Linked DNA regions of Homo sapiens: all the other regions are linked to region 3. The links come from fine-mapping of genetic effects on gene expression. A gene starts in region 3. Each other region holds a variant in brackets. All regions are shown on one strand. Distances are between the middles of the regions.

Region 1 (8,000 bases), 950 kb after region 3:
TTTGTGTCACAATTTTTTTGCCCTATTAAGACCAATCATGGCCGGGCATGGTGGCTCACACCTGTAATCCCAGCACTTTGGGAGGCCAAGGTAGGCCGATCACTTGAAATCAGGAGTTCAAGACTGGCCTGGCCAACATGGCCAAACTCCGCCAAAGATAGCAGGTGTGGTGGCACACACCTGTATTTTCAGCTACTTGGGAGGCTGAGGCATGATAATCGCTTGAACCTGGGAGGTGAAAGTTGCAGTGAGCTGAGATCACACCACTGCACTCCAGCCTGGGTGACAGAGCGAGACTCCATCACACACACACACACACACACACACACACACACACAAATCTACATCAAGAAACAAGAGTTTCATCATGATCTATAGTCTTATTTTTTATTATTAATATTATTTTTTAACCAACCAGTATGTTGTCGGTAATCAGTTGTTCTGTTTCATAACAACCACTGCCATCACCCATATTTCAGAAACTCTTTGATGTTGCTGGGAATGCACGAGTTAAAGGGCAGGAGGAGGGGTCTGGGAGCCTTGAACAAAACCCCTGCCATCTCGCCACAGCTGTATCTTCAACATCTCTGCAACCGCGTTAAACCAGTTCGTACTAATTACCCATAAACAGCTTAACCCTCCGCTGCCATGTTGAACTGCAGAGGCACATTTCTACAGTTCTGTTAATTTTATTTGCTATTGATGACATGCTGTACTTAGGAATTATAATTTACCTTCAGAAGTGGTATATAACTATTAATTTATCAGAGTCTCACAACGGCCCTGGGAACTAGAATCACTTTCATTTTTTTAGATGATAAGATGGAACAGATAAATTATGATATTTTTCTGCCACTTCATAGGGAAAGCCTGGGCTTGGAGCCCATTTGCTGGAGAGTTGCTTCACATCTCAAAGTGACAACCGATGCCTTGTTTGTTTGCGTGGGAAAGAGAATGACACTCACGTAACAGCCTTCTATTATATTGTTCTTTTAAAAGATCTTTTATGCTGGCTTGATTTGCTTTTTGCTTTCTTTGCCAAGTGGGTTTGCCTTGCTTTGGAGAGCTGCAGAAAATAATACAAACTCTGAGAGATTCCAAAAGGGTATTTCGGTTCTTGGTGTGATGATGTGGTTTTCTTTCTCCAGGTCCACCATCTGCTCCCCTGAACTTGATTTCAAATGTCAACGAGACATCTGTGAACTTGGAATGGAGTAGCCCTCAGAATACAGGTGGCCGCCAGGACATTTCCTATAATGTGGTATGCAAGAAATGTGGAGCTGGTGACCCCAGCAAGTGCCGACCCTGTGGAAGTGGGGTCCACTACACCCCACAGCAGAATGGCTTGAAGACCACCAAAGTCTCCATCACTGACCTCCTAGCTCATACCAATTACACCTTTGAAATCTGGGCTGTGAATGGAGTGTCCAAATATAACCCTAACCCAGACCAATCAGTTTCTGTCACTGTGACCACCAACCAAGCAGGTAGGAATTGAATCTACTTTATTGTATGATCTGAATGTATACAGAGAAAAGGCTTAAAATAATGAATTATAATAAATTGCTATAATTGAAATAGAATCAATCAAGCCTGGGAGCTGCGTTATAATGTAAAAGATACTTAGGGGCTGGGCACGGTGGCTTACACGTGTAATCCCAGCACTTTGGGAGGCCAGGGCAGGTGGATCACTTGAGCCTGAGAGTTTGATCAAGACCAGACTGGGCAACACGATGACACCCCATCTCTACAAAAAAAATACAAAAATTAGCTAGGCATGGTGGTACAAACCTGTAGTCCCAGCTACTCAGGAGGCTCAGGTGGGAGGATTGCTTGAGCCCAGCAGTCAGAGGTTGCAGTGAGCTGAGTCACTCCATGCTGGATGGGATTCATCTCAGTCATTTGAATTATGATGTCCATGGCTGGACATCAGAGCACTTATAGATTATGTACAATTATAAAATTGATTTTTACCAATGCAGAGTGCTCTTTTGGTATTTGTTATATTTTCTAACAAAAGCATTAGCAGCAATAGTTTTGATCTTATGCTTTAATGTAAAATATTATAAATGATCTAGGTGGACCTATACTAGAACCTCCATGTACATCTTTGTGTCTATAGTTAACGAAGTTTACTTTAAGACACTTAATAGTTTTGCAGCTACTTTTTTCTTTTTTTCTTTTTGAGACAGAGTTTCACTCTGTCGCCCAAGCTGGAATGCAGTGGCGTGATCTCGGCTCACTGCAACCTCCATCTCTGGAGTTCAACCAATTCTTCTGCCTCAGCCTCCCGAGTAGCTGGGACTACAGGCGGGTGCCACCATACCTGGCTAATTTTTATTTGTATTTTTAGTAGAAATGGGGTTTCACCATATTGACCAGGCTGGTCTCGAACTCCTGACCTCGTGATCCGCCCACCTTGGCCTCCCAAAGGGCTGGGATTACAGGCGTGATTGCAGCTACTTTTATAGTTGATTTCTTGATTGACGTGGGGGCTGGGAGGGTGGGGCGGAGGGTGGGGCGGCCAGTCTCCTCCAATTCCTACATCACTTTCTGCTAATACAGATGACTAGAAAACATTTCCTGTTCATGAAGTGTTTCTACTGAGTTAATCGCAGAACTGTCATGAAATCTTGAATATCAAATATTTTGAAAATCTAGGTTTCTAGGCTTTCGCTTCTGACTTACTCATCTGTACTCCTTCCCTGAAAAAGTTACCACCCCTCCAGGAGTTTTACATTGCCGGCTTTTTTATTTCTGGAGAGTTAGAGAGGAGAAGGGAAACAGAGTTAGAGTGGCTTATTCTTTGTGAGGCTCTTGGGATAGAAAACATAGCCAGAAAAGGATTATAAATTGCCAACAATCCTATCGCCTCTAACTGCACTTTTCTTTTAAATGAATGTTTCAGTAAGTGCACTCAATAGTTTAGTAAAATATCTGTACTAATTGATCCTATAAGTGAAAACTATTCCAGTGTCCCAATCCAAAGCCATTATTTTTCCATTTTGCCCTGAACTCTTTGGAATAAATAAAAAGTTAAGACTTGGGGAAGGTTTTGAGCAGGGGCTAGAATGGCAAGTCTTACCGGAATGTATCTTCAGCTCTGCAAATGTGAACAGTCTTTTAAAATATCTAATGTGAACGGGTCATCCAGCTAGGCCTTTGTCTTTTAATTCTGAATTTTTAGGTTGTGAACACTGTTCGCAGTCATTAGTTTTATTTTTCTACAAAGACTAGTATGATTTAGGAGTTTTTGATAGAAACATGAGTACTCTGTGATTGCCAACAGTTTATTAGTTCTCTTTTGGAAGAATGCAATGGAAATATTACATACAGATCCTGGGAACACGCATCGGTGCTGCTGGTCTCTCTGAATTAGGAGCTGATGCAATGCAGAACGATTTCTGCACCATCTGGAGAATCTGGTTGATGATCCAATCAGTATTCTTACATGCAGCCCCCTTCTACCTTTTTGGCTATTCATTCGCAAGCACTACATCATTTTCTTAACCGAATTATAAGTAGGGATGGACTTTTGGAGCCTCATCTGTAAAAGGTGAAGTCATTCTCCTTGGCAGAGAAAAGCCTGTGGGAGATGCGCTGAGGACAGGCTTGGCTCCCACAGATTTTGGGGGAGACTTCTATGACCCCCTGTACACGTAGGGATTTGAGCCAAGAAGTTATGTCAACACCTACTGGGGCAAAAGGTCCAGAGAGCACAAAGAAGACACACTAAAATCCTCCAAAAGAAGAAAATGCAAAAACATTTCCGGGGGTGGGGTGGGGTGGGGTGGGATGAAGTTTTATTTTAAATGTAGGTATAATTCTTCTAGATTTAGGAGAAAAGCAGACAGAGAATTACTCTGACACAATAAGGTTTTCTTTGCCATGGCATGTAGTCCTGCCAAGGAGGTTTGCTGAACAGGACAAAATTCCAGCT[C/T]CTTATTTTAATTTTCATGAAGGGTAATGCTGGGAAGCTGTTCAAAATTAAAAATAAATCTTTCAATAAGGAGACCTCCTATGTGGCCAGCCAGAAAGCTTTCACTTAGTAGAGAATTGTATATGTGCAGAGCACTGCTTCATTATCCTATCATAATTTGAAGTTCTCTAATTCAAGTCATCAGGATAGTTTATCTTTGATTAACAAACCCTTTCTTCATAGTAGTGCAAATTAATAATGTAGGCCAAAATTCGGGTGAATGTAGCAACCGTAAACTCTATCGAAGCTCCCCTAAGCATATTTACATACACACAATTATGTTCTAATTGCAATTGCTCCTATCATTTCATTAAATTAAATTCCTTGAGGACCACTATAGGCAATGGTGTCTCACTCTATAAGGAATACATAGAATTAATGAACGTTAGCATTTAGCACCTGGAGGCTACAAAAGTTAGTGGTTCTCCATCTTTGCTCTGTTTTCACAGGGTTCTTTCTCTCATCAGTAATATGTTAGAAATGATAAATCAAATCAATCACGCAAAACCTGCTAGAATTCTTGGGTCCTATGTTCACCACCTTTGAGACTTTAAGAGTTGAGGAGCAGCTCCATGAAGGTGAGGTGACTCACCCATGCTAATGTCAGAGCCAGTACTAAAAAGCAGGGAGAATCCTACTCCTGAAAGTAGAAAGTTGCTTTCCTTTAAAATTAGGAGATAATGAATGGCATTCATGTATTCAGCTTGGCATTCTCCCCATTTATGAGACCAGATTATGTGAGTATCTGGGCATGGACATGGAGATTGAACTGGGCTTTGATCATTTAATTGTAGAATGTGGTGTGAATGGGCCTGTGTTCTCACAAGGTTATTTAAACAATCCTAACCCAAATCTTACTCCTGGGGTCTTAGGGGGTTAATAAACACCCTTTTGCTCCCCTTCTGGGTTGAAAACCAGTTGACACAGAAGACAAAGGAAATCTGAATGTCTGTCAGCTTTTTGCTGATAAGCTGATGGAAGGATGTGAGCTTTATATCTGTGGCCAAAAGGGCTTGCTTCAGTGACACTTGCAGCCCAGCTGGCTACCTGCAGCCTCTCCGCCTGCCCTGCTAAGGTTGTTGGAAGGACACTCTGTGCAGGCAGACAGGTAGGCAGATAGGCAGATAGGCAGATAGACAGGTCTGAGAGTGGGTGGAGCTGAGGACAGAGTACTTTTCCCAAATTCTCTAATGAGATGAGTCACTCCCAGCCTCACCCCCATGCCAGAAACAATGAAGGGAAGAGGTGGGAAAAGAGTAAGGGTGGGGGTGTTACTTTTCCAGCTGAAGTCGTACCCAGTAAAATTGGAGAAGAGGAAGCTCTTGGAGCTCCCCCAATAGTTACTTTTCTACATTACAGGCCAAAAGGAGGAAAATGAGATTCCAGTTTCCTTCATCTTTCATCCTGTAGCGACTGTTTTGTCTTTTGTTTAGAAGCAGGTAGTCCTGATGTTTATGAAAAATGGATAAGCAAACTGCTGGGTGATTTGTTTTCTGGATGGCTTTCCTTTGGTTTACTTTCACTTAAGTGGACCATCTCAGGCAAATGAATACAGGATGTGTCACTAGGAGGGAGAAATACTGTATAAATGAAACAAGGTTTTCTGGCCAAGCAACAGACCTGTGAATATTTTTTTTTTGTTAAAAAGGCTGTGATGGCAGCCAGCAGTAGCTTAATATCTCTGAACGGTTTTTTGCCGTTCATCTCCCATCGCCTTTGCTTGGTTTTCTAGCTGTGAGGCTGGACCATATTCTGGCGTTTTAAATCATTATGGTCCCAACCCCCATGAATGGTGTTCCCTCCTCACCCCAAATTGCACCCAGGGCCGGTGTTGTCCATTTTTTATTTTTACTTTGCATGTGATGCTATTCTAGATACTTCATAATGGAAAGATCTGGTCATCTCTCTCTAGCACAGCTATGGTGTCCTAGTGACAAACAAACATCTGTAGCATGCTTAGTTTGGAGGAGTTAAAATATTTGATGCATTACGTAATTATTTAAACCAGCTAATCTCTAAGATCTTTTCCGTTTCAAAATTCTATGATTCTAAGTATGTAACCCTGAGCTGTGGGCTATGAACCTGAAGAAGTAAGGCTTATTCTTCTAACATGTTTAGAAATGGTCTCTCAATGCAATTCTAAGAGTGGGAAAACATTCTCCAAATGCTTCAGCAGAATTATCACCTGAATTCTGCCTGCCCTCCTTCTCTCTAATTCCTTGCCTTGCCAAGGGATTTACGTTGCGGGGGGAAAACAGTAAGATAGTGAACAGTTGTTCTAAATTGGGGGTGATTTCTGCTCCTACCCCTAATGGGCAATGTTTAGAGGCAATTTTTGGTGCAGTTGCATCTAGTGGGTAGAAGCCAGGCAGGCTGATAAACATCTTATAATTCACAACACAGCATCCCCAATCCTCCGCAATGAAGAATTTTCTGGTCCAAAATGTCCATAGGGCTAAGGCTGAAAAACTCTGTTCTAGCAATAGTTTTTAAGAACAGACTTCATAGCAGTGCCCACCATTTCAGGGTTCCATAGCCATGTGGCCTTTGCTTGAGCTGGCCTGTGGCTGAACACATAGGGAAGATTCCACATTTCTCTGGCTCCATTGCCCCATGCTGAAAGCATGATGCTCCCGTTACTGTTCTCAGAGAACAGGCAGTTGTAAAGGGCCTTTCAAGGCCCCTCATGAATCCTGTTGTAGCTGTTTTGCCATCAGATGAACGGGCGCTGCTTGTTAGGCTGACCTTGTTCTCTAGGGTTGGACAATTAAGCATTAACTGCAAAATAATAATAATAATAATAATAATAATAAAATAAAGTGGCATTACACCTCATTATAATGCCACTGTGCCACATGTAGTCATTGTACAGTTCCATCTGTTTGTTGATTAACATTTATTTACAGTAAAATCAAATCAGTTAACTCTCTTTGTCAAGTAATGATAAATTTAATAAAACCAAAATAATGAATAAAGAAAAGAAATAACTAAGTGTAAGAGGCACACTGTCTTTTATTATTCAACTGGTAAGTTCCCATTCTTTCTCTCTCTGCCATCTTTTAATTAGACATATTATGTTATTTGAGTGGGATAATGGAGAACAGTGGGAATTCTCATCCCCACTGGGTATAATTGCTACCTGTCTTCTAGATAGTAAGAGGAAAGCTTCAAGAAAATGGTGGGAGAAAGGGGAAAATCTTACAGCAATCAATTTAGGTAATATGCTGTAGGCATGGCAGAGCCAGACTTTGTGGAGTTTAAAGCTTAAACAACTATTGTGTGATTAAGGGTGAAAACATAAAACCCTACAAAATTACAAATGTCAGACTAGTAACAGAGCTTCAGAAAGGGTCCATACAAACTTCTTTAGCTTCGGTAAATAAAAATCTGCCTCTGACTATGTTGAGATAAATGCAATTGTCAGACAACAAGACTATTGCATAATCATCCCTAAAAACAGAAAGGACAAGGGAGAAAGATGAGATGTTGGGAAGTCCAGTTTGGCCTGAAATGAAGGTGTTGAAAGACAGGTTGTGACAGTGAGTGGTTCTGGCCCACAGTTAGGTATGAGGGGCACCTCTGGAGTGGACCTGAGTTGTGGTCTGAGATCAAAGGGACAAGCAGAAAGCACATTCCTGCTGATTCTGAGAATTGTTTTGGAATACTAAACCTAAATGAGATGATGTGATCTCGGTTCATGCAACCACTGCCTCCCAGGTTCCAGCGATTCTCATGCCTCAGCTTCCTGAGTAGCTGGGATTACAGGCGGGCGCCACCACATCCAGCTAAGTTTTCTATTTTTTAGTAGAGATGGGGTTTTCCATGTTGCCCAGGCTGGTCTCAAATACCTGGCCTCAAGTGCATCCATCTGCTTCAGCCTCCCAAAGTTCTGGGATTACAGGTGTGAGCCACCTCACCTGGCCAAATGATGATATTTTTAAGACACAAATGTTTGCTTCCTTTAGTGCCCTAAAGCAGGGGTCAGCAAGCTATGGCCCAAGGGCCAAATCGAATCCTCCAG
Region 2 (11,629 bases), 32 kb after region 3:
TCCTGATTGGCCTCCAATAGTTGCATAATTCTACCTCTGTTGCCACAGAGATCAGTGCACTATGTAACCCAGGTCCAACCAATCAACATGCAGCATTTTCCCAGCTTCAGTCATTCATTTTGGAATGGGCATGTGATCCCAGTGATTCAATCAGAGCAAAGCTCAATCCTTTTGTTTGGTGGTCAGGGTATCAAAATAGCTTTCTGCCCTGTGTATGAATAAGAAAGTACATATCATCAATACACAAAAGCCAGTTACAGTTTCACAAACTTGCAACCTTCAGAAAACTTACTTTAAACATATATATGTGTGTGCATATATAAATGCAGTCAAAAATATTTTCTCCTAGCTACATAGGAGAAAATAATCTAACAAAATATGGGCAAGACCTTTAATAAGAAATGTGAAAACTTAATTGAAAGATACTAAAGAAGACATAAGTGAAGAAATATGTCATATGGATAAATATGAAAACTCAGTGTTAAAAAATGTCACTTCTAACTTGTTCTATACTATCAATTCATTTGCTATGAAAATTCTAATAAGTTTTTTCAAGGGACTTGATAGTTTGTGTACTCCAAAAGCAGATGTTGAGATGGAGTTTGGGGTGCTAGATGTTTACAAGTATATTAGTCAGTTCTCACATTGCTATAAAGAAATACCTGAGACTGGGTAATTTATAAAGAAAAGAGATTTAGTTGGCTGATGTTTCCACAGGCTGTACAGGAAGCCTGATGCTGGCATCTTCTTGGCTTCTGAGGAGGTGTCAGGAAACTTACCACAATCATAGCAGAAATGGGGGCAGGCACGTCTTACATGGCAGGAGTAGGAGAAAGAGAGAGTGAGGGAGGAGGTGCCACACACTTTTAACCAGCTCTCAAGAGAACTCACTCACTATCATGACACAGTACCAAGGGGAAAATCCACCCCTATGATCCAATCTCCTCCCACTAGGCCCCACCTACAACATTGGGGATTACAATTTGACATGAGATTTGAGCGGGGACACAGATCAAAACCATATCAACTAGGAAGGTGTGAAAGGAACAGGGAGGAAGCAGGATTGGACAGAGGAAGATGTTAAACTCTGATGCAGCCTTGACAAGTCTCAACCAACCCTGTGGTGAGCTCTGAGAAAAGTACTGCCCTTCAGAGCATCCTACTTCAGGCCAAAATATTCCTCATCCCACTTAATCACCAGATAAAGGCTGCCCTGGAAAGGCCAAGTCTCTGTGTAGGTGGTTCTCTGAAGCTGAGGCTAATCTTAAAGAAAGTGATATTTGGGGGCTGTCTGCTGACTGTACTCCTTTCAGCCTGCCAGCAAATTCTTCCTTGAAGGAGGCCTATGAAAGCAAATCTATGTCTATCACACAAGCTGATTCTAAAACTGATAGAAAAAAAAAGCCAAGAATAGCTAAGATATTACTCCTGAAGACAAAGGAGGAAGAGGTGAGAGAGGAAGAATGATGAGGAGGGGAAGGAATAAAGGGATTTGTCCTACCAGAAACAAAACTTATTTTTATTTACCTATATATTTATCATTTTCTGTGTTTTTCATTCCTTTGTGAAGATTCAACTTTCCTGCTGGTAGGATTTCCTTTAAGCCTGAAAAACTTACAATGTGGGCCTTTTGAGATAAATTTTCTCAGCTTTCATTTACATGAAAAGGTCTTTATTTTGCTTTTGTATTGCAATGTATTTTAGCTGGATATAGAATTCTGAGTGAGTTGATGCCAGGCGCGGTGGCTCACACCTGTAATCCCAGCACTTTGGGAGGCCAAGGCGGAAGGATCACAAGGTCAGGAGATCAAGACCATTCTGGCCAATGTGGTGAAACCCCATCTCTGCTAAAAATACGAAAATTAGCTGGGCGTTGTGGCGTGTGCCTATGGTCCTAGCTACTCAGGAGGCTGAGGTAGGAGAATCACTTGAACCCAGGAAGCAGAGTTGCAGTGAGCCGAGATCATGCCACTTCACTCCAGCCTGGGTGACAGAACTAGACTCTGTCAAAAAAAAAATTCTGAGTTGACAGGGATTTTTCCTTTTAATACTTTTCAGATGTCATCTTCTTATGCTTAGGTCTCCATTTTTTCTGATGAGAAGACTGTGGTCATTCTTATGTTTACTTCCCTGATTGTAAAACCTTTTTGCTTTGGCTACTTCTAAGACTCAGGAATTGGACTAATATATATCTAGGTGTGGTTTTCTTTGGAACTTGCCTGCTTGGGTTTTGCTGAGCTTTCAGATATCTTTCATCAAATTGGGAAAAGTTCTGGTCATTACTTCTCCAAATATTTTCTGTTCTAATATTTGAATCCTCTCATTCTGGGACTATACTTCCACATGTTTTGGAATGCTTAATATTTGCCATAAGTTACTAAGATGCTTTTCTTTTTCTTTTTTTCCAGCTTTTCCCCCTATCTTTTTTCTTCAGCTTCTTAGATAGTATTATGGGCTAAATTGTGCCCCTACCTCAAATTCATATTTTGAATTCCCAACCCTTAGTACCTCAGTGTGTAATCAAGTTTTGAGATAAGGTCTTAAAGAGGGGACTGAGTTAAAATGAAAATATGACAGCTGAGAAGCCTATAATTAAAATAAAATAAAATAAATAAAATAATAAAATAAAATGAGAATATCAGAGTTATCCAATCTGCCTGATGTCCTATAAGAAGAGAAAGGACACCAAGGGTATATGTGCACAGCAGACACCCATATGAAGAGGTAGCAAGAGGGTGGTCATCTAAAGTTAGAGGCCTTAGAGAAAACTAACCCTGCTGACACCTTGATCTTGGACTTCCAGCTTCAGAACTGTCAAAATAAATTTGTCTCGTTTAAACCACCCAGTCTGTGGTATTTTGCTATGTATTACTAGCAGACTAATCCAGATAGGTTCTATTGTTTCTTATTCAAGTGCATGGATCTTTTTCTCTGCAATTTTCAATCTGCTATTAATTCCATCTATTATTTCCTGAAAATATAACTTTTTTGTTTCAAATGTGGTATTACTAATTTTTAGAATTCCCATTACTACATTAATATTCCCCATTTTTATGTCTCATTATATGCATATTTTCTTTTACATCCATGGATATATTTATAATAGCTATTTTTAAGTGCTTGTCTGTTAAATTCAACATCTGGTCATTGCCATTGAGGATGCAAAGATGGGAGAACTTTGCTAAATTTTTCTTTCCTGGTTATGGCACATTTTCCTGCTTCTTTGCATATCAAGTATTTTTTTCATTGTATTCTGCCATTTTTTTCTTTAGAGATGAAGTCTCACTCCCAGGCTGGAGTGCAGTGGCACAATCATAGCTCACTGCAGCCTTGAACTTTCAGGTTCAAGTGATCCTCCCGCCTCAGCCTCCTGAGTAGCTGGGACTACAGTGTGAGCCACCATGCCTAGCTTGTATGCTGGTCATTGTTAATACACGTTGAATATCCCTTATCCAAAATGCTTAGGACCAGAAGTATTTTGGATTTGGAATTTTTTTTTTTTTACAGATTTTGGAATATTTGCATATATATAATCAGATATCTTGGGGATGGGACCCAAGTCTAAACACAAAATTTATTTATATTTCCTATACACCTTATATACGTAGACTGAAGGCAGTTTCACAATATTTTAAACAATTTTGTGCATGAAACAAAGTTTTTGTGCATTGAGCCACCAGGAAGCAAAGCTGTCACAATCTTAGCCACCCATGTGAACAATCTGATTGTTTGGCATCACGATCATCCCTGGCTCTAAACTGATATGCTACTCATAAGCAATAATTTTCTTAAGCTTATTCACACATAAATACTTAACATTAAAACATATGATATGCCATTAATACAATGAAGAAATATTGTGTGCAGAATAACTAAGTAGCACAGTAGCATCACCAGAATACCTGTCTCAGCTGTTAGACAACGGCAACAACAAACAGTGATAGGTTGCAACCTCCACCTGATGCTTTTCTTTGACTAAAAGGTTACTAGACAGTGTGTTTCTTTTTCTTTTTTTTTGTTTGGTAAGAAGAAACATCAAAAGTAATTGAGGGACCAGGAAATAGGTCCTCTAGGAATGAAGAGGCATTCTGCAGGATGGCTTTTAAAAATGTTTTCTCCAGAATAATCTGCCTCATTAACAATGAGTTTTTGCTTAGATGTCTTTTCTTGATTTTATAAACTGAGAAGGTTTCTTGTCTTGTTATAAATATACACTGCTGTAGTCCTTCAAAAAGCCCACCACACATTTTCACCATGTTGTCAATAGATACTTTTCCTGTAGTGTTGACATCATCTTCATCATCACTATTATCATCATCTTGATTGGGAACTGTTTTGTCATATTTCACCATTGATCATTGAATAAACAACTGGAGCCTTGTTATTGATGTTAAAAACTTTTTCAATTATCACCTTCTTCCAGCTTATTGATGGATTTTAAGGATACATTTCTTGAATATGTAAGAAGGTCAGATGTCCCTGGCGATCCATGCCTTTTGTTAGCATAATAAAGGACTGCTAAGAAATTCACTCCTTGAGGACAGCAAAGCTTTTGCCTATCACAGCAAGTTTACACTCATGCATACCTGCTGTGTTACCACATCCCAGCACAGTTATTCTGTCTTTGCATCCTTAATTCCTGTAGGGGCTTTCTCATCAGATGTAGTCGGTGTCTTTCTGGAGCAATAAGGCCAAAAGTGTTGATTCATCAGTATTATAGATGTGTTCTGGCATCAGATTTTCATCAGCGATGACCTTGACGAACTCATCAGTGAATTCCTCTGCTGCTTTGTGATCAGCAGATGCTTAATCACCAGCAGTCTTTACAAATTTAAAGCAGTGGTTCAAATTTTTACAGGTTCTGTTCATTGTTAACCCCAAAGGATATATCTACCTCTCTTTTGGGTATCATTCTGGGACCACCAGTGAGCAAAGTAGGGTTTGACCCCAGAGGCTCTGAAGTGAGTCCAAAGAAAACATTTATGAAATTAATGCTAAGGCCACAGCACACCTAAGGGTGAAAATGTACTCCTTCTTCCATTTACTATCACAAGTTATGTCCAGTCACTTTGTCCAATAGAGCTCATCAGAAATTACACAATGAGATCAAGTGATTATATTAAGATTTTCCCACAATAAAATACAAATAAAAAGCATTCTGATAAAAGAAACTATAAAGAAACACATAGAAAAGTTTGTTACAAAAGTGTGGATGATACTTGCAGATCTGTAAAGTGTTAATGGTGGAGGGTATCTAGGTTCCTGGCATCTTGAACAAAGAATTAGACAAAACGCACAAAGCAAGGAAAGAATGAAGGGATTTATTGAAAATGAAAGTACACTCCACAGTATGGGAGCTGGCCCGAGCATAGGGGCTCAAAGGCCCTGTTACAGAGTTTTTGTGAGTTTAAATACCCTCCACTTGGGGTACCCCCTATGTAAATGAAGAGGATGAAGTAAAGTTACAAAGTCATTTACTCGATGTATGCCCTATGGAGAGGATATTTCCTGTTATAGCTGAAGTGTCAATAGGCCTTATGTTTCCTGCCCCCAGACCCTATTTTCCTGCCTCAAAAGGAAAGGTCATAGAGGGAACTTCTCGGGTACTGCCAGTACCATTCCCAAACTGGGTGGTCTTCACATGGATGTTTGCTTTGATAGTACTCTTTAAAATGCACATAGGGCCAGGTGCAGTGGCCCACCTCTGTAATCCCAGCACTTTGGGAGGCTGAGGTGGGCGGATCACTTGAGTCCAGGAGTTCAAGACTAGCCTGGGTAACATGGCAAAAACCCCCATCCCTACAAAAAATACAAAAATTAATTGGGTGTGGTGCCACGTGCCTGTGGCCCAGCTACTCAGGAGGCTGACGTGGGAGGATTGCCTGAGCCTGGGAGGCAGAGGTTGCAGGGAGCCCAGATCATGCCACTGCACTCCAGCCTGGGCAATAAACCCAGACCTGCCTTAAAATAAAATAAAATAAAATAAAATAATTAAAATAGAATAAATAAAAAGTAAAATGCACATATATGTTTAATACATTTTCTGTATGTATAATAATTTTAATGATAATAAATTTCTTTTAGAAAAATAAACTTCATTAATGAAATGCCAACAACAAGATGTGCTAAGAAAAATTAGTATGTCTTTCTCAAATTTCTGCAATCAGTCTGTTGAATATTTACAGTTCCTTTCACTTTTCAGTTCATTGTGATAGTTCTTTACTGGTTTTGTGATTAGCAAACAATTAAGTTGTATGTGTTCTTTGTGACACAGACAGACCTACCTTTTCAACACATGATCAAGATCTTCATTTTTAGCTTTATGCAGCATTTTCCCATTTTTCACTTTCATTAATATATGTTCATCACTTTTAGCATAGAACTGCTACAGTTTATCCTTCTGTTTCTTCAGGGCATGTATGCTGGTAATTCTAATACCATAATCTTCTGTAAGATGTTTTACACTTACACCACTGGCTGGTTTCTCCAACAGCTGGACTTTCTGTGCTATGGATAAGCATAAATACTTCCTCTTTTCCTTATCACTGTACTCATAAGGATATCTGCAAGATTTTTTGACATTTGCAACAATATCTATACCACAGTGCAGAGAATAAGCAAGAAAACACAGTGAGTAATGCATGTAGGTCTTGGCCCCATGTGGAGCATCATGGGGAACATGGATCCAGCCTGTACATACGTGTGTCGTTTCATTACTCATCGTGGGCATGCTTGCAGGGAGAATCTGGGTGTGTGCCGAAAAGATGTATTACAGCTGAAGGGGGCTGGGAGGGTCGTTTTCCCTTGGGGATGCTGAATAAACTGTGCGTTGTGTGCCTTTATTTGACTGTGACCCATCACATAAGGTCAGGTGTGGAATTTTTCACTTGTGGTGTCAT[G/C]CTGGTGCTCAAAAAGTTTCCAATTTTGGAGTTTCAGATTCGGGATGCTCAATCTGTACTAAGTTGTTAGGACTTTGGATTTTGTTGTCTCCCTTCAAGAATGCTGAGCCTTGTTCTTGTAGGGAGTTAATTTGCTGTAAGATCAGCTTCGTAAGCCCTCACTTTAAGGCTAGGGTAGCTTTACTCCATAAGAATAGTCCTCTAGAATCTCAACTCATTGCCACAGTGTTCGAATAGATCTCTCTACACTAACTGGCTATAACTTTACTGATCTCAGCTCTGTGAAACCTTCAGAGATTGAGCTTAGTGTTGAACCAAACAGAAGCCTTTCTCTATTATCTCCCTTCTTTCCAACACCTATGTCACAACTTCCAGTTGCCTCAGCAGCCCCCAAATCTGATCTTTGTTCCTCCATCCAGTAAGAGCACAGCTTTTGTTGAAGCTCCATTTCTCAATGCCTTGGCTTAGAAAATGCCACAGGCAGAAAGAGAGCTGGATGTGGAGCTCCCCTTCTGTGTCTTACTCTTAAGGATCACAGCCCTGTGCTGTTGTCTCATGTCTTTGTCCTGTTTTATAGATGTTCACAGTGTTAGAAGTCAAAACTTATTTCAAAGCCAGCATCATTAAGTCTATTGGTTTTGGCTCAGGGAGAGAAAAATTGACCAATGAAACTGAACATAGAGCCCAGAAATAGATGCACACGCATAAGCAAACTTTAAATGTGACAAGATGGCATTGCAGATCATTGGGAAAAGCATGGAAGATTCAACATGGGTGCTGGCCTCTAATTATCCATATGGAAAAAAATAAATCTGAACTCATACCTCACACCACCCACAAAAATAAATTTCAGGTGGATCATGATTTGCATATGAAATGTCAAGATTAAAAATGTTTCGAAGGCTATGTAAGAAAATATATTTTCAGGATAGGATTTTTAAACATAAGGCAAAACTGCTAATTATGAAAGGAAATATTGATACATTTGAGTCTATTAAAATTAAGAACTTATGCACTGCAGAAGACATCATAAGAAAATGAAAAGAGAAGCCCAAAACTGGGAGAAGATATTTACAAGCTATATAACTAGCAACATATTATTTGCAAGTCGATAAGAAAAAGACAAACCATCCAGCAGAAAATGGATAAAAGACATGAACCACATAATTAGAGCAACTTTAATAATGGAAAGATGCTAAACACTATTAGTAATCAGAGAACTGCAAAATAAGACTCTAATGAGACATTATTTAAGCCTATAAGATGGCAAAAATTAAGAGGTATGAAAATACTACAGGCTGGTGATTAGCTAGAGCCATGAGAGCACTTTGGCATTGCTGATATGAATGGAAATTGTTATCACTTTGGAGAACAACTTTGCATTATCTTTAAAATAGAACTCTTATACATGTGCACTAAGAGGCACGTACAAATATGTGCATAATAGCATGGTTCATAATTATAACAAAAAAATGAAAGTATTGTAAACATCCATCTGTAGGAGAATGGATGAATTGTGATATGGTCTCAGAATAGAATATATTTCAGTAGTGAAAATAAATGAACTGTAAGTTCACATAACCATATGGATAAATATTAGAAACAAGATTGCTTGAGCCCAGTTTGAGACCAGCCTGGACAACATAGTGAGACCCTGTTTCTATCTAAAAAAATTCTTTAAAAATAATAAATACATAAAGTAATTTGTAGAGAACAATTTACAATACTATAATTTTCAAAAACAAGAACACGCGATGTCTTGAGTAGTGATACATATAAAATAGAAATATATATATTTATAATATTTATATAACATAATATAAACATGTTATATATAACATAATATAAATATTAATATTATATTTATATAAATATATTTATATATCACATATATGTGATATATATCATATATGTATATATGTATATACATATATACAGTATACATATATACATATACATATATACATATATGTGTGTATATACATATATACAGTATACATATATACATATACATATATACATATGTGTATATATACATATATACATATATGTGTGTATATACATATATACAGTATAAATATAAGTATTTTATATCACATATAATAATATATAATTAATATATTATATATCATTAATTTATATTAATATACAATAATATAGTTATATATAATATAAGTTATACACTAATATATATTGTTAATACATTATTATATCAATATATTATATTTATATATTATATATAATTCAAGGTATCACCCACACCTTTGGGGGTGTGGGTGATAGGATCAGGTGAAGCACACAGAATGAAATTGGTAATGTTCTAGTGTGTTAATTGGTGGTGGGTTTATCTATCTAGCAGATATTATTTGACATTATCAGATATTACATATCTTAACATTAAAATTATTAAATATGTGAAAACAACTTTAAAAATAGAATTAAAATATTTGGGCCCTTTAGTTAAAATAGTGTAAAGCGAGTTCATAGAACATTATAATTTGAAGCACTGGTTTGAGGACTATATTAATTTTCTATTGGTGACGTTACAAAGCATCACAAACTTAGTGGCTTAAATAATTATCCTACAGCTCCAGACATTAGAAGTCCAAGGGTATTACGGGGCTAAACCAAGGTATTGGCAGAGCTGAGTTCCTTCTGGGCATTCTAGGGGTGAACCCATTCCTAGCTTTTTCCAGCTCCTAGAGACTGCCTGCATTCCTCTCTGCTTCACTCGTCACATCTCCTTCTCTCACTCTGATCCTCCTGCCTCACTCTTATAAGGACCTTTGCAATGACACTGAGCCCTCTTGGATAATCTAAGATAATCACCCCATCTCAGGATCTTTGACTTAATGACACCTGCAAAGCCCGTTTTGCCATAGAAGGTGATATATTCACAGGTTCTGCAGACTAGGATGTGGACATCTTAGGGAGAAACTATTCTGTCTACTTTAGTACTTTTGACGTTGCTGGGAAACAGCTGGGAAATTCTGAGTTAAGACACTTAATATACCTTATTTATGAAAGAAGAGAAGGAAGGAAGGAAAGAAGGGAGGGAGGGAGGGAGGAAGGAAGGAAGGAAGGAAGAAAGGAAGGAAGAAAGGAAGGAAGAGCAGACAGACGACTTAGCAGCTATTGACAGAAGCTTAACTTCCACAGCCAAGTCATCCTGAGAGTGAAGCTGGAGGAGGACACAGCTTTAAGAATCAAAAATAAACAGGGCTAAAGACCTAATGTCCACATGAACCTCTGAGTCAAAGTAAATCTAAAACTTATCTCTGGACTTACACAGTTAACCCTTGAACAGCACAGGAGTTAGAGGTGCTGACCTCCTGCACAGTCAAAAATCCCTGTATAATTTCTGACTCCCCTGAAACTTTACTAATAGCCTATGTTGCCTGGAAAACTTACCAATAATATAAACTGTTAGCTAATACATATTTTGCATGTTATATGTATTATATACTACATTCATACAATAAAGTAAACTGGAGAAAAAATGTTATTAAAAAATCATAAGAGAAAATATACGTACTCTTCATTAAGTGGAAGTGGATCATTATAAAGTTCTTCATCCTCATTGTCTTCACATTGAGTAGGCTGAGGAGGAGGAAGAGGAGGAAAGTTCAGTCTTGCTGTCTCAGGGTGGCAGAGGCAAAGAGAATCCACTTATAAATGGACTATGTAGCTCAAGGATCAACTGTATTTTCCTTTTAGTTACATTTCTTTTATAAAATTTACCCCCACTTTACCCAGCAAGCTTTCAATTTCTTGGTAGAGATATTGCCTTGGTGAACCTACTTTAATCTTGGAAGTGCAGCAACTTGCGTTAGGCAACTCCATGGTTGATTAGAATTTGGGGACTGATTAATAGTAACCAGTAACTGGGGTGCTAATTGCCTATCCAACATCTCTTCTAATTTTTCCCTTAGTAATTAGAGCCTGTTTTATTCAAGGTGGCAATGTGCTCAGCTGATAATTACCTTTTTTGGTCTTTCTTTCAGATACATGTGGGCATTGTCAAAGTTCTGGCCAATGGGGAGTATTACATTATTCTTTTTCCTGCTTCCTGGAATACAGAGTTGAGTGCTGGAGCTTCAACAGCAATCTTGCAGCAAGAGGTGACTATGAAGACAGAAATTAATCACTAGGGTGATGGGTGCTATAGACTGAATGTTTGTGTCCCTTTTGCCCCCGACAAATTCATATGTTGAAATCCTAATTCTCACTGTGATGGTATTTGGAGGTGGGACCTTTGGGAGGTGATGAGGTCATAAGGATGGAGCTCTCATGAGTGGGATTAGTGCTTTTATAAAAGAAATCCTAGAGAGCTGTCTTGCCCTTTACTGTCATATGAGGACACAGCTAAAGGAGAGCCATGTATGAACCAGAAAGCAGGTCCTCACCAGATACTAAATCGCTGTTGCCTAGATCTTGGACTCCCTAGTCTCTAGAACAATGAGAAATAAATGTTTGTTGTTTAAGCCATCTAATATATATTATTTTTATTATATCAGCTGGAACAGACTAATACCATGGAACAGACAGAAATAACCTAGGTCTCCACTGACTTTGTGAACTGATGCCAATCCTGATCCACCTACTTGTGGTCTTCTTTTGCAGGTAAGCATAAACTTTGTGCATATAAGCCACTCTTATTTTGGATTCTTTTTATATACAACTAAATATATCCTTAACTCTTAGACTAAAATAATAATGTATATAAACAG
Region 3 (11,629 bases):
ACCTCATCCAGGATACTACATAACATTTAGTCATGCCTCCTTAGACTCCTCTTGAGTTGTGACAGCTTCTCAGAATTTCCTTGTTTCTGATGACCTTGACAGTTTTGAAGAGTACTGGTCAGATATTTTGCAGAATGACCCTCAACATGTAACAAGAATACATAATTTTAATATGCATCAAGAGAACATGATGTCAACATGACTTACCACTGGTGATGTTGACCTTGATCATCTGGCCAAGGGAGTGTCTGTCAAGTTTCTACACTGTAAAATTACTTTTTTCCCCCTTCTCTTTCTATATCGCACTTTTTGGAAGGAAGTCACTATGTGCAGCCCATGTTTAAGAAATAGGGAGGCTGGCTGTGGTGGCTGATGCCTGCAATCCCAGCACTTTGGGAGGCCAAGGCAGGAGGATCGCTTGAGCCCAGGAGTTCGAGACTAGCCTGGACAACATAGTGAGACCCTGTCTCTATTTTTTTCAAAAAAGAAGAAAAGAAATAGAGAGCTATGCTTCCTTCCCTAAAAGGTGGAATAGAGCCTATGTTCTTTAAGAAAATTAAGGTAAAATATACATAACATGTACCATTTTAACTATTTTTAAGGTTTCGATCACCCTTTTTAAGTAGACCAACTATTTCCTGCTGACACTCTGATGATATCCAAGCTGAACTTGTCATCATTCACCAAAAATGACACGTGTCTTTATGTTCTAGCACATGAGAATCCAGGTAAAGAAAGAGCTTCTCCCATTTTTGCCTGTTTGATTCCTACCCACTCTTTAAGCCCCAACTCAAGACTTCATGGGCTCCCCTGGGAAGGTGAGTTACTCCTGCTATTGTCTTCCTGTCCTTGTATTCATCGTTCTATTCTAGTATTTTTTTTATTTTTTGCACTGCATCCTTTTATTTGGGCTTTCACACAGAAGAAACTAAATTGTATTGATCTTTATGTCTCTAAGTCTGAGGACTGTCCCAGAAACATGGTAGTGATCAATGGATGTTGACTGGAAATGAAGAAAGCAAAGGTGAGATAGAAGCCAAAGTGGTTTATTTTCTCCAAAGATTAAAGAGAGGTTTAACACCTAACATTGGTGAGTGTGTGGGAAAACCTGCCCTCGTAGTGGTTTGCCCTAGCAGACTCTTCCTGTAGGGCAATTCGGTAGTAGCTATTAAGAGCAATAATATATGCATTTTTTTCACTCAACAGTTTCAAGTCTGGACATTTTATTTGGAAGATAATCAAAGACAGGTGGAGAGATACTTGTACAAAGATGTTATCATTTTTAATGCAAAAACTGGAAACAAACCAAAAGCACAGCACCTAGCTGACTAAATTACAGTATATCCATCCTGTGGAGGAACATGCGGCCATTAAAAATTGGGCTGAACATTTACTAAGTGATTAGCAATGGGCGGTGATATAACGGGCATGAATTTAACTTTCTCTTCGTGTGTTTCCAAGTTTTCTCCTGTGAACAATGATGATATCTGTAACTAGAAAAAAAGATCAAATATATTCTTTCGAACTATCTCATTTTGTCATTTCAGATGTAAGCATCCAATAAAGGATAATAAAAACTTGCAGTCTGATCTGTTGGCCAGTTTAGTTATGGTGAAGCCAAAATGTCACGGCTGCCATGACCACTGCCTGCAGCCATCACCACCCTCCTACTGAATATACTAAGGGTGGTGGGTCCCAGGAGAAGAGAACTCAGAGCTTCCCAACTTTGTTGGTCAGCTTCTCTGGACCCCTCTTCTAACCTGGATCTTGGACATTGGTTTATGTTTGTTTTGTTTTGAAAGCTTCTCTAAGTGACTATACTGTACAGCCATGGTTAGAAAACCATGGTTCTTGGCCGGGTGCGGTAATCCCAGCCTGTAATCCCAGCACTTTGGGAGGTGGCCTGTAATCCCAGCACTTTGGGAGGCTGAGGCAGGCACATCACCTAAGGTCAGGAGTTCATGACCAGCCTGGCCAACATGGCAAAACCCGATCTCTACTAAAAATACAAAAATTAGCTGGACATGGTGGTGCATGCCTGTAATCCCAGCTACTTGGGAGGCTGAGGCAGGAGAATCGTTTGAATCCAGGAGGCAGAGGTTGCAGTGAGCTGAGATGGAGCCACTGTACTCCAGCCTGGATGACAGGGTGAGACTCTGTCTCAAAAAAAAAAAAAAAAAAAAAAAAGAAAACCATGTTTTTTTTCCCCCACTCTGCTCATTCTGCAGATGGGACAACCGAGGTTCAGAGAAGTCCAAAATGACATGAAGGTAAAACTAGATCCTGGTCTCCTGGTTTCCAGGATGTAGTATTTGTACTTTAGCACACCAATGAAATCAAGGTTTCGTAGATTAACAGATTTAGAGCCTCAAATGTTTCAAGAGGGAAACTAGGAGTCTAAGATTTCTAGAAACAACTTATCTTTGAACCTCTCCCTAAGTCAATGTGAGAACTATGTCTGAGCAGTTATCAAAAAGTACTGGACACAGGGATATTAGAAAAGATGATCCTTAGTCTAATGTACTGCTGAGGAAGGCACTGCAGAGTCTAACTAAATACAACTGTATTGAGTAAGCAAAAATGTTAGAAATCAAAATACCATTATATACGAGGCTGGCTTTACCCCAGGACAAATAAATGAAATTCTCATCACACCTTTACCTTCCTGGCCCAGTCCTAGGATCCTGCCTTCTGCTCAGGGCAGTGCCTCCCAAAGCAATAACCAAAAATGGCTTCCTACAGTTACTCTTGCAAGTCAGATACCCTTGCAAACTGAAAGCAATACCACCTCTTTTCACACGATCTCCACCCTGTCCCAGCCAGTACCAACAGGACACACCTCAGTGAATCAGATACAGTGAGGCCCTGGAATTTTCCCTGGAATCTGCACAGAGGAAAGAAGTTTAGACTTGGGAGTCAAAAGATCTGACTTCCCCTGACTGTGTGGATATCCTGGAAGTCCTCAATAAATCTCTTAACCCTTCAGGACTCAGACTTTCTGTGAAATTCATGACTACTGGGCAATTTCTAAGGCCCAGTCCAATTTATTCAATGACAGGCTTGTACAAGCCAAGCCCACTCCTGGTTTGTAAAAGATGCAGTTAATCTTTAAGCTAGCAGCGTGTGGTGTAATGAGAACTTGTAGAGGAAACTTTTAGTCACTTGAAAACAGGAAACACTTGTCCTGTTTCAAAATTAAAACAAATATAGACAATGTGAAAGGTGAGAAGGTAAATCAGATTCATTAAGATCTAAAGTCACTCAAATGAAGAAGAAAACTTCTCTATTGTTTGAAGGGTCCTAAATCAACGTCCTGGTGCTACCTTCTAGGCTATGCGGAAAAATCACTTGATTTTCAACATTCACTCATTTTTTTTTAAAGAAAAACGAAACATCGCCAGTCACAGTGACTGACGTCTATAATTTCAGCACTTTGCAAGGCTGAGGCAGAAGGATCACTTGAGGCCAAGAGTTTAAGACTAGTCTTGGCAACATAGTGAGACCCTGTCTCTACAAAAAACAACAATAACAACAACAACAACAACAACAAACCAGATGATGGCATGCATCCGTAGTCTTAGCTACACAGGAGGCTGAGGCAGGAGAACTGCAGGAGTCCAGGATGTGGAAGATGCAGTGACTTATGATTGTGCCACTGCACTCCACCCTGGGTGACACAGCAAGACCCTGTCTCTTAAAAAAAAAGTTTAAAACTATAATTTTATATTGCAATCTACATGCATGTATTCACAAAAGTCACTAGTCCCTCCTACGTGCCAGGCTATGAGAAAAAAATAAGGACCATAACAGAAAAGTTGCCTGCATTCTTAGAGTTTATCATCCTCTGGAGGGGCGGGGAATAATCAGATATCCACACAAAGGCACATTTAAACAACGTGATAAATGCTGTAATGAAGAAATGCAGAAAGCAAAGAAAAACTATAGCAGGGGGAGCTAGGCTGGAAGGTCAGAGAAGTCACCCATGGAGGAACTGACCTTTGGAAATAGAAGGATGAGTGGGGAGGATATTTAGAGAAAAGACAGGCAGCTCAGGCAGGCCAACGCCTGTACAAAGGCCTGCAGAGAGGGCAGCACACTTTTCACAACTGCCCCCTTAAAGTCCTGTAAATTGCCTGAGTGTAGATAAGAGATAATTTTTGAGGGGGGGAATCAATGTGTGTATGTAAAGGATTAATCTTCCCAAGTCATTTGAAACCAACCCACCTGTAAAAACATTAATTAACCTTTCATTTATCAAGCACTCTCAAGTTTATGATTTCCCCCATTATATACCAACACAATGATTTCTTATCTTGGGCATTCAGCTTTCTTGCTTTTACATGATCTGTAAGCAGAAGTCCTGTGTTGGCTGGGTGGGTGTGGGGAAACCGCCACAATTTCACTCACTGAAGACCCACCAGGATTGTCAAGCAGTAAGAAGATAAAACTGTGTAAGAAATCTGCTTAGCTTGCTTTTAAAGGTCAAGAGGATCCAACTGTGGAGTTTAAAGTTAAGTTACCAGGGGTGATGTTTAAAACAGTTTGAGAAGCACTGGTGGAACAATTCACTCTTTTTCAGCTTCCTGAATTAGAGAAACAGGGTAGAAGCTTGTGAAGAGAGCAACAGAAAGCAACTCACGTGTCTACCTGTGGGTGTAAACAGTGTGTGCACCGAATATGTCACGGCACGTTTCAGCCATGGGACTGTTTTTTGTTTGTTTGTTTGTTTGTTTTGGTCTTTTTTTTTTTTTTTTTTTTTTTTTGAGACGGAGTCTCGCTCAGTCGCCCTGGCTGGAGTGCAGTGGCGTGATCTTGGCTCACTGCAACCTCCGCCTCAAGCTATTCTCCTGTCTTAGCCTCCGGAGTAGCTGGAACTACAGGCCGCACCACCACGCCCAGCTGATTTCTTATCCCCCCTACTCTGCCCCGTTTTTAAGACAAGGCAAGAGAAAAAAGAGGGGTTCTCATACTCATCTATAGGTTACCGGAATGTCACATGGGATAAAGAAGGAACAATAAAGAGGAAAAAATACAGAGGAGGATTTCTCTGGAGTAGAACACACAACCACCCTCACCCTCCCAAACAAATTCTGTAATCCAATGCCTATAATATTCCATTCCACACAGAAGCCAGGTTCTTCGTAATTCCTCAGTTACTACATCTAGAAATTTACACGTAAGTAAAGGCCACCTTTCTTTCACCAAAACCTTCTAGGAAGAACAAAATGTGGCTGTGTACAAGGAATTCGAATTATTAATACGTTTATTTCTGTTCTCCTGCGCCACACTTTTGACTTTGCCGAGGGAAAAGGCAGGTGCTGCCAGTGCTCCCGGTAGACATGCGTCCCCAGAAGCCAAGTGCAGCCCGTCTGGTCCCTGCTGCCTAAAGTCCCTGTGCACTGCGACGACGACGCACGCTGGTTCCCCCCAAGCCGCAGTGGGTTGTATAACCACGCTTTGAACACCTAGCGGGAGCGTAGCGAGCTTCCCTCCCAGAAGCATCTGTTAGAAGTCACTGGTGTCGGTCCATAAAAGACCCACCAGGCAGGAGGGACCCCCAGACTCTGGGGGAGGGCAAGCGAGAGTTGCTGTTAAGACATCATCGCCGGGGGTAGTGCAGGGAGGTTGTAAATCTCTCTAGGAGCTGTGTGAGCCCCAAGTTCTGTGCCCAGAGCTGGCGGTGCAGCGCGGTGAGGAGCGCGCTGAGCCCGGCTGCACCCGCATTTGTGCGCATCAGGGAAGGGGGATGGGCGGAAATGCAAGAATACGGGGGTGGGGGGGAGTCTAAGAACGTCTCCCCGGGGAAGTGCCAAGGACATCCCCGCTCCTCCGTTCCATTACGTAACTCTTACATATTTGCTGGCATCTACGTGAATTTAACTACTTTTGAAAGTGGGAAGTCTCTAAATGGACTGCATTGAAAGCGTCTGGGGATATCTCAATAGACCCGGTTGCCCCTGGCAGCGTTGGAGGGTGGCATCCTGGTTACTGGAAGGCCAGGCCTCCCCGTCCGCTCGCAGCGGCGGGAGCCGGGTCACTGCCGGGGACGGCGCCCTCTCGGCCCGGCCGGCCCCGCGTGGCGGAGTCGCAGGGACCCGCACGTCCGCAGCCGCCCCCTCCCCGTACCCGGCGAACACCTGCCCATGGTTACCTCCGGCGCCGCGGCTCTGCGCAGCCCGTTGGCCGGAGCCTCGCCGCCCTTGCCGTTGGCTGCGGGGAGATGCTCGACCCCGGGGACCCGCGCCGCGCGCTCCGTGGGGTCCGCGCCGTTCTCCCGGGGGCCTTCATCCGGAGCGGGGAAGAGCCCGCAGCGGCGCTGGAAGCGGGCGACGAGCTGGGAATCCTGCAGGCTCCGCAGCAGCTCGGCCATGGTGTGCCCGGGGCCGCGCTCCGCCGCCGCTGCCACGCCGGGCCGGTGCCCTCCGCTGGCACCGCCACTCCCGCCTCGCCCCCGCCGATCCCGCACTCCGGGCGGAGGCCGGGCGGGCGGGGCCCCGGGCCCAGCCAACAGGTGCGCCGCCCGGGTCCTAGCGCCCGCCCAGGTGTCTGCCTCCACCTTGCGCAACGCGTCCCCCTTTCTCTCCGTCCCGGAGGGCTTGGGCGGCCCCGGGCGGCCACGGGGGCAGGACCGCCTGTAACTGGACGGAGGAGTGCCGATCTCCGAACTGCGCCTCTCTTCTCCCGGCGCCCCCAACCCCCCACCCCACCTTCTTCCCCCGGCAGACGTAACACTAATGGGAGCGGCCGAGCGCGCGTGCACCTGCGGCCGCTCCCATTAGCCCATCCTTTTGGGCTCAGGCTGATCCCACAGTGACCTTCCTTGCAACTCTGAGCCCAAGGTGAAGTCGGATTTCCTCCCACGCCAGCTCCCCACAGCCAGCCACGTACTCTCACCTTCCTGCAAGACTAGTTCCCAGTAAATACAGCGAGCCCCCCAGGGAGAATTCCCAAGTTCTTTCCAAACTGCGTGATGCAACGTCTCCCTAGAGGTCCGAACACCCTTGAGCTTGCTCAAGTACCCAGGAGGTTCAAAGTGGGCCCTGAGTCATCTTCCGCGTCGCTGCCCCTGCCCTTCTGATTTGGCAACTGGGGAACATTTTCAGGTGGGTGGGAAGGAAAGTCCCTTCTGGGTTTTCCGCATTGAGAACAAAGATGCTTACCGCTTTCTCCTACTTCTTTCTTTCCGCTCTGCCTCTCTTTAAGCAATGACACTGGGAAAACCCCACCAGACCATTTAGGGAGTTTAAACGAGAAGAGAACAAAGTGCTGGAGGACTGGGGACAGGATTAGGTATCTCATTGCACCTGCACCTGCTTTAGAGCACTCAGCAGAAGATAGCAAAGGAAACATCCTGCAGGCCGGCCTTGGTTTTCCCTCCTCCCTCCTACATTTCCCTCCTGGGCTCAGAGATCCCTTGGGAGGCAACAATCAAATTAGGCCCAGGTGATCAGTCTGCAACAAAAGTGCAATTCAACCCCGTCTTTCGTTTGCAGCAGAAACCTGCATGTTTCCTGATTGTCCATGCAAAGCCTACTAAGAATTTGGTTGCACAAATGATTAATGAACACCTGTCAATGCCTTATTTATTCAGTTGTCCTTTTAGGCCTGAATGTCTTTGGGATGTGACTTTCCAGGATGATGTAGTCCCCTTCATGCCCTAGTTTCTACTTTTCTTGCTTCTCAGTCCTGTCTGGAGAGCAAAGTCAAGGGGACTGAGAGAATGCTGAAGCTCTTAAGGGAAACCATTTTCCTCTTACAGAAGACACGCAGAGTTATTGTCATGTCTGGCGGGATCACACACAGAAATGTCCGGCCCAGGAGGTGGAAGCATCTCTCCACAATGCTTCTGGCTGTCATTTACAGGTGTGAGGCAAAACCCTGTGGTTTGGTTTTAGAAGCTGGAGCTGTGATCGTTGGGGACCTGTTCTGCTTATGTGTTAAAGAAATATGTTTTCCTGTGAAGGCACTTGCATCATGTGTCTCCCGAATTTAGTGCTTCGATTTTTCTTTCTACCAGTTAGGAAAAATAGGCAAAGCAAAACATGGCACACGCAGCATTAAGTTAATTGCCAAAGAATTGTATTTGTAGACAGAGCATTTTATCTCCATGGAGGATCAGTTACTGATTCCAGCTTCTAGTGGCTCACCAAGTCACCTGATGTAAGTCACCATATGTCGCAGTTTATCCCTGTAATGAAATGATAATCCTCACTTCTTGTCTTTCTTATAAGGCTCTTGTAAAAATAACCTTGAGACAAGCTCTATAAGGCCTAGTGAGATCATGATAAGAAGGTGTATTGTGCTGGAGTCATTCAATCTAGGAAGGAATCCTCAAGAGAATTTGGCTCTGAACATCTTGAGTAGGACATCTTGAGCCTCCTGGGCAGTGGTAAAGTCCATTTCCCCAGAACCTTTTTTTTCTAAGGCCCAGTCTGATTATTCTGAACATGAATTTCCCAACCAACCTAACAAAAATCAACATCTTTGAGAAGTGGTAGGACTGAAAGACTGCTGTAATGGTGCAGAGATATCAAATAGTAGCTTGCAGTCATGCAAAAAATTTTTTTTTCTTGATACCAGAGAAACACCCTGTAGTTCTTTGATCACTGAACACTAGTCATACCTGTGGGAAATACATTTCACATCCCGCCCCCCGACCTTTTTTTTTTTTTTTTTTTTTTTTTTTTGCCAGGGCAGAAATCCAGTTATTTGTACTTTGCTCACTTGTATATATGTAACAATTACAAAATGACATATTTAAAAGGAATCAATGATGGATATATTAATACTAGTTCGGATAAAGGTTAAGCTACTATAACAAAGAGACCCCAAAATAGAGTGGCTTAAGGAACACAGACATGTATTTCTCTTTCATAGAATGGTTCTAAGGCAAGCAGTTGAGGTTAGTAGGAAGCTCTGCTCCATGGCCCTACTCCATGACTCTGGTTCTTTTCATCTTATTGCTCCACCATGCCCTGAAACTGAGCCTTAGGTCATCGTCCTCTTTTGCATGGTTGAATCTGGGTTAGGGCTGAACATCTGAAGTTCAGCTCCTGAAAGGGTGAAGAGAGAGAGTGTTCTGAGCAGCAATGTCTTATTAAGCAAGTGAGGCAGAAGTTCACACATCACTTTCACTAACATTCCATCAGTGAGAAACAATTGGAAATGTTATCTCTAGCAGGGCAACCTTATGTCAAGCTTAAGCTATATTCCTGTGGAAGAAGTGGAGGACAGAATTTTTTTGTGGGCAACCAGCAGTCTCCACCAGTATTAGGAAACTAATGTTGGTTAAAATGTTGTACAGTAAAAATCCATGTTATAATTCAGCCATAATCTACACATTTTATCTAGGCAGCTTGTCATTCACTTGGCATGTTATAAATACTCATGTGCAGATAGAATTTTTTAAAAGAAGCCACACTAAAAATAAGTTATTCCAAAAGACAATTGGCCAGGCATACATGCCTGTAATCCCAGCACGTTGGGAGGCTGAGGCGGAGGATTGCTTGAGGCCAGGAGTTCAAGACCAGCCTGGGCAACACAGGGAGACTCCATTGCTACAAAAAAATTGTAAAAGTTAGTCAGGCATGGTAGCATGAACTTGTAGCCCTAGCTACTCAGGAGGCTGAGGCAGAAGGATTGCTTGAGGCCAGGAGGTTGAGGCTGCAGTGAGCCATGACCACACCACTGCACTCCAGCCTGGATAACAGAGTGAGATCTTATCTCAAAAAAAAAAAAAAATGGGGGCAGGGACACCTGGTAACCTTTAATAAGTTAAAGTAATTTTTTAAGTGTTGTCAAAATACCTTCATTATAAATGAAAAATTTTGGTATTAATTACATTATTGCATTTTAAGTTCTGATTTAGAGTTATTTCTCTGCAAAGCACGTTACTTCCAAATTACAACTAGACTGTTCAGTTTTCAATTGGGCAATGCTTCCTGGATCAAGACAAGTATACAGAATTTGGGTTCTGTATTGATTATCTATTGCTGCATAACAAATTATCACATAAAAATAGTAGCTTAAAACAACAACATTTATCATCTCAAAGTTTTTGCAGAGCAGGAATCCAAGTGGTTTTAGCTGGGTCCCCTGGCTCTGGTTTCTCACAGGGTCACAGTCAAGGTGCTGGTTGAGGCTACATCATCTCAAGGCTCAACTGGAGGTGGATTTGCTTCCAAGATCACTCAGACGATGGTTGGTAGATTCAATTAGCTGCAGACTGTTGGCCACAGGCCATTCCCTCTTTTTCAACACATGGGCCATTTCATAGAATAGCTCATTATACAGCCTCTTCATAGAATAGCTCATTATACAGCCCTTTACTTCACCAAAACAAGCAAATGAGGAAATCAAGACATACAGAGTGTCTGAACAGGACAAAATAGAAGTATTTTATAGCCCAATCTTGGAGGTAACATTCCAATAGTTTTATCCTATTCTACTTCATAGAAGCAAGGCCCTAGATCTAGCCCACACTGAAGGACAGAGGGAGTGAGACAAGAATATGAGTAGTAAATGGTAGGGATTCTTGGGAGCCTTTTCAGAAGCTGCATACTACAAGTTCTTCATGTTTACATTAATTCTCTAATTTCATAGCCACAATATCAATATTTATTGTCCCTAAGAAATACAATGCATAGTCTTGGCCTCAAGGAGCTTCCATCTGTTGCACACATATAAGATGCATACACAGAGAAAAACGCGTGCAATAATATAAAAACAATACTAAAGGGAAAAAAATGGAGCACCAGATGACAATTTCTATTAAAAACTACACGTATCACAGCTGTAATTCTCAAATCTGGAATCAGAATTATCCCAAAAATCTGCCAAAATTATGGACCTCTTCAAAGAAAGTATAAATCCTTAAATTAGAAAAGAGAAAAACAATGAAACTAACAAATGCAAAATAGAGTTATTGGGAAAAAATGCAACAAAATAGACAAACCATTAGCTAATCTAATAAAGAAAGAACAAGAGGAAAAACAAAAGCACAAAATTTTAAATACTGAAGGAAAAATAATCATTAAAAGCAGAGGAAAAATTTTAAAAGCCTTAGAGGCTACTTTGTACACCTCTATGAAAATAAGTTTTAAAAATAGATGAAATAGATATTATTTAAGGAAAACACAACTTACTAAAATTGATCCCAGAAAAGAAAGTCTAACCAGACTAATTATCATAAAACAGCTAGAGAAAGGGGGTTAAAATACTCCTCTATGGAAAGCACCAGGCCTAGCTGGCTTCACAAAAACATTCTATCAATCATTTAAAAAATGGGTAATCACAATGCTAATTAACATATTCCAGATCATAGATGAAGACATTTTTCAAATTTTCTTTTATGAAGCAATATATTGATCTTGAAACCTGAAATAGTACCAAAAGAAAATGACAGAATACTATCACTTGTGAAAATCATTCAAAAATCTTAAAATATCAGGAGTCAGACTTCAGCAGCTCATTAAAAAAATACTTTTTAATTTAAAAAGTGAGATTCATTATAGTAATGCAAATAAGTTAAGTATTAGAAATCCATTGATATTATCTATCATATTCATAGAACTAAAGAGAAAAATCATATGATCTGTTATGGACTGAGTTGTGTTCCCTACCCTAAAAA

Evidence for each region.
Region 1: its variant is fine-mapped to the expression of SGPP2 in monocytes after LPS (Fairfax 2014, PIP 0.95).
Region 2: its variant is fine-mapped to the expression of SGPP2 in whole blood (TOPMed, PIP 0.95).

The regions. Positions count from the first base shown.
Region 1 is chr2:221,475,839-221,483,838 of GRCh38, reverse strand. It overlaps EPHA4 (EPH receptor A4), which reads left to right. Exons shown (of 18, transcript NM_004438.5): 5 at 1,149-1,487. Among named protein-coding and RNA genes, the nearest start is that of EPHA4, 92 kb to the left of the region's middle. The variant C/T (reference allele first, on the strand shown) is at 3,941.
Region 2 is chr2:222,387,010-222,398,638 of GRCh38, reverse strand. No RefSeq gene overlaps it. Among named protein-coding and RNA genes, the nearest start is that of SGPP2, 32 kb to the left of the region's middle. RefSeq lists an enhancer at 4,290-4,887. The variant G/C (reference allele first, on the strand shown) is at 6,900.
Region 3 is chr2:222,419,344-222,430,972 of GRCh38, reverse strand. SGPP2 (sphingosine-1-phosphate phosphatase 2) reads right to left here and starts at 6,430. Exons shown (of 5, transcript NM_152386.4): 1 at 6,152-6,430. The coding sequence starts at 6,370. RefSeq lists enhancers at 2,679-2,728, 2,889-3,008, 3,219-3,288, 5,437-5,496, 5,547-5,696 and 1 more and silencers at 5,997-6,046, 6,057-6,286, 6,377-6,726.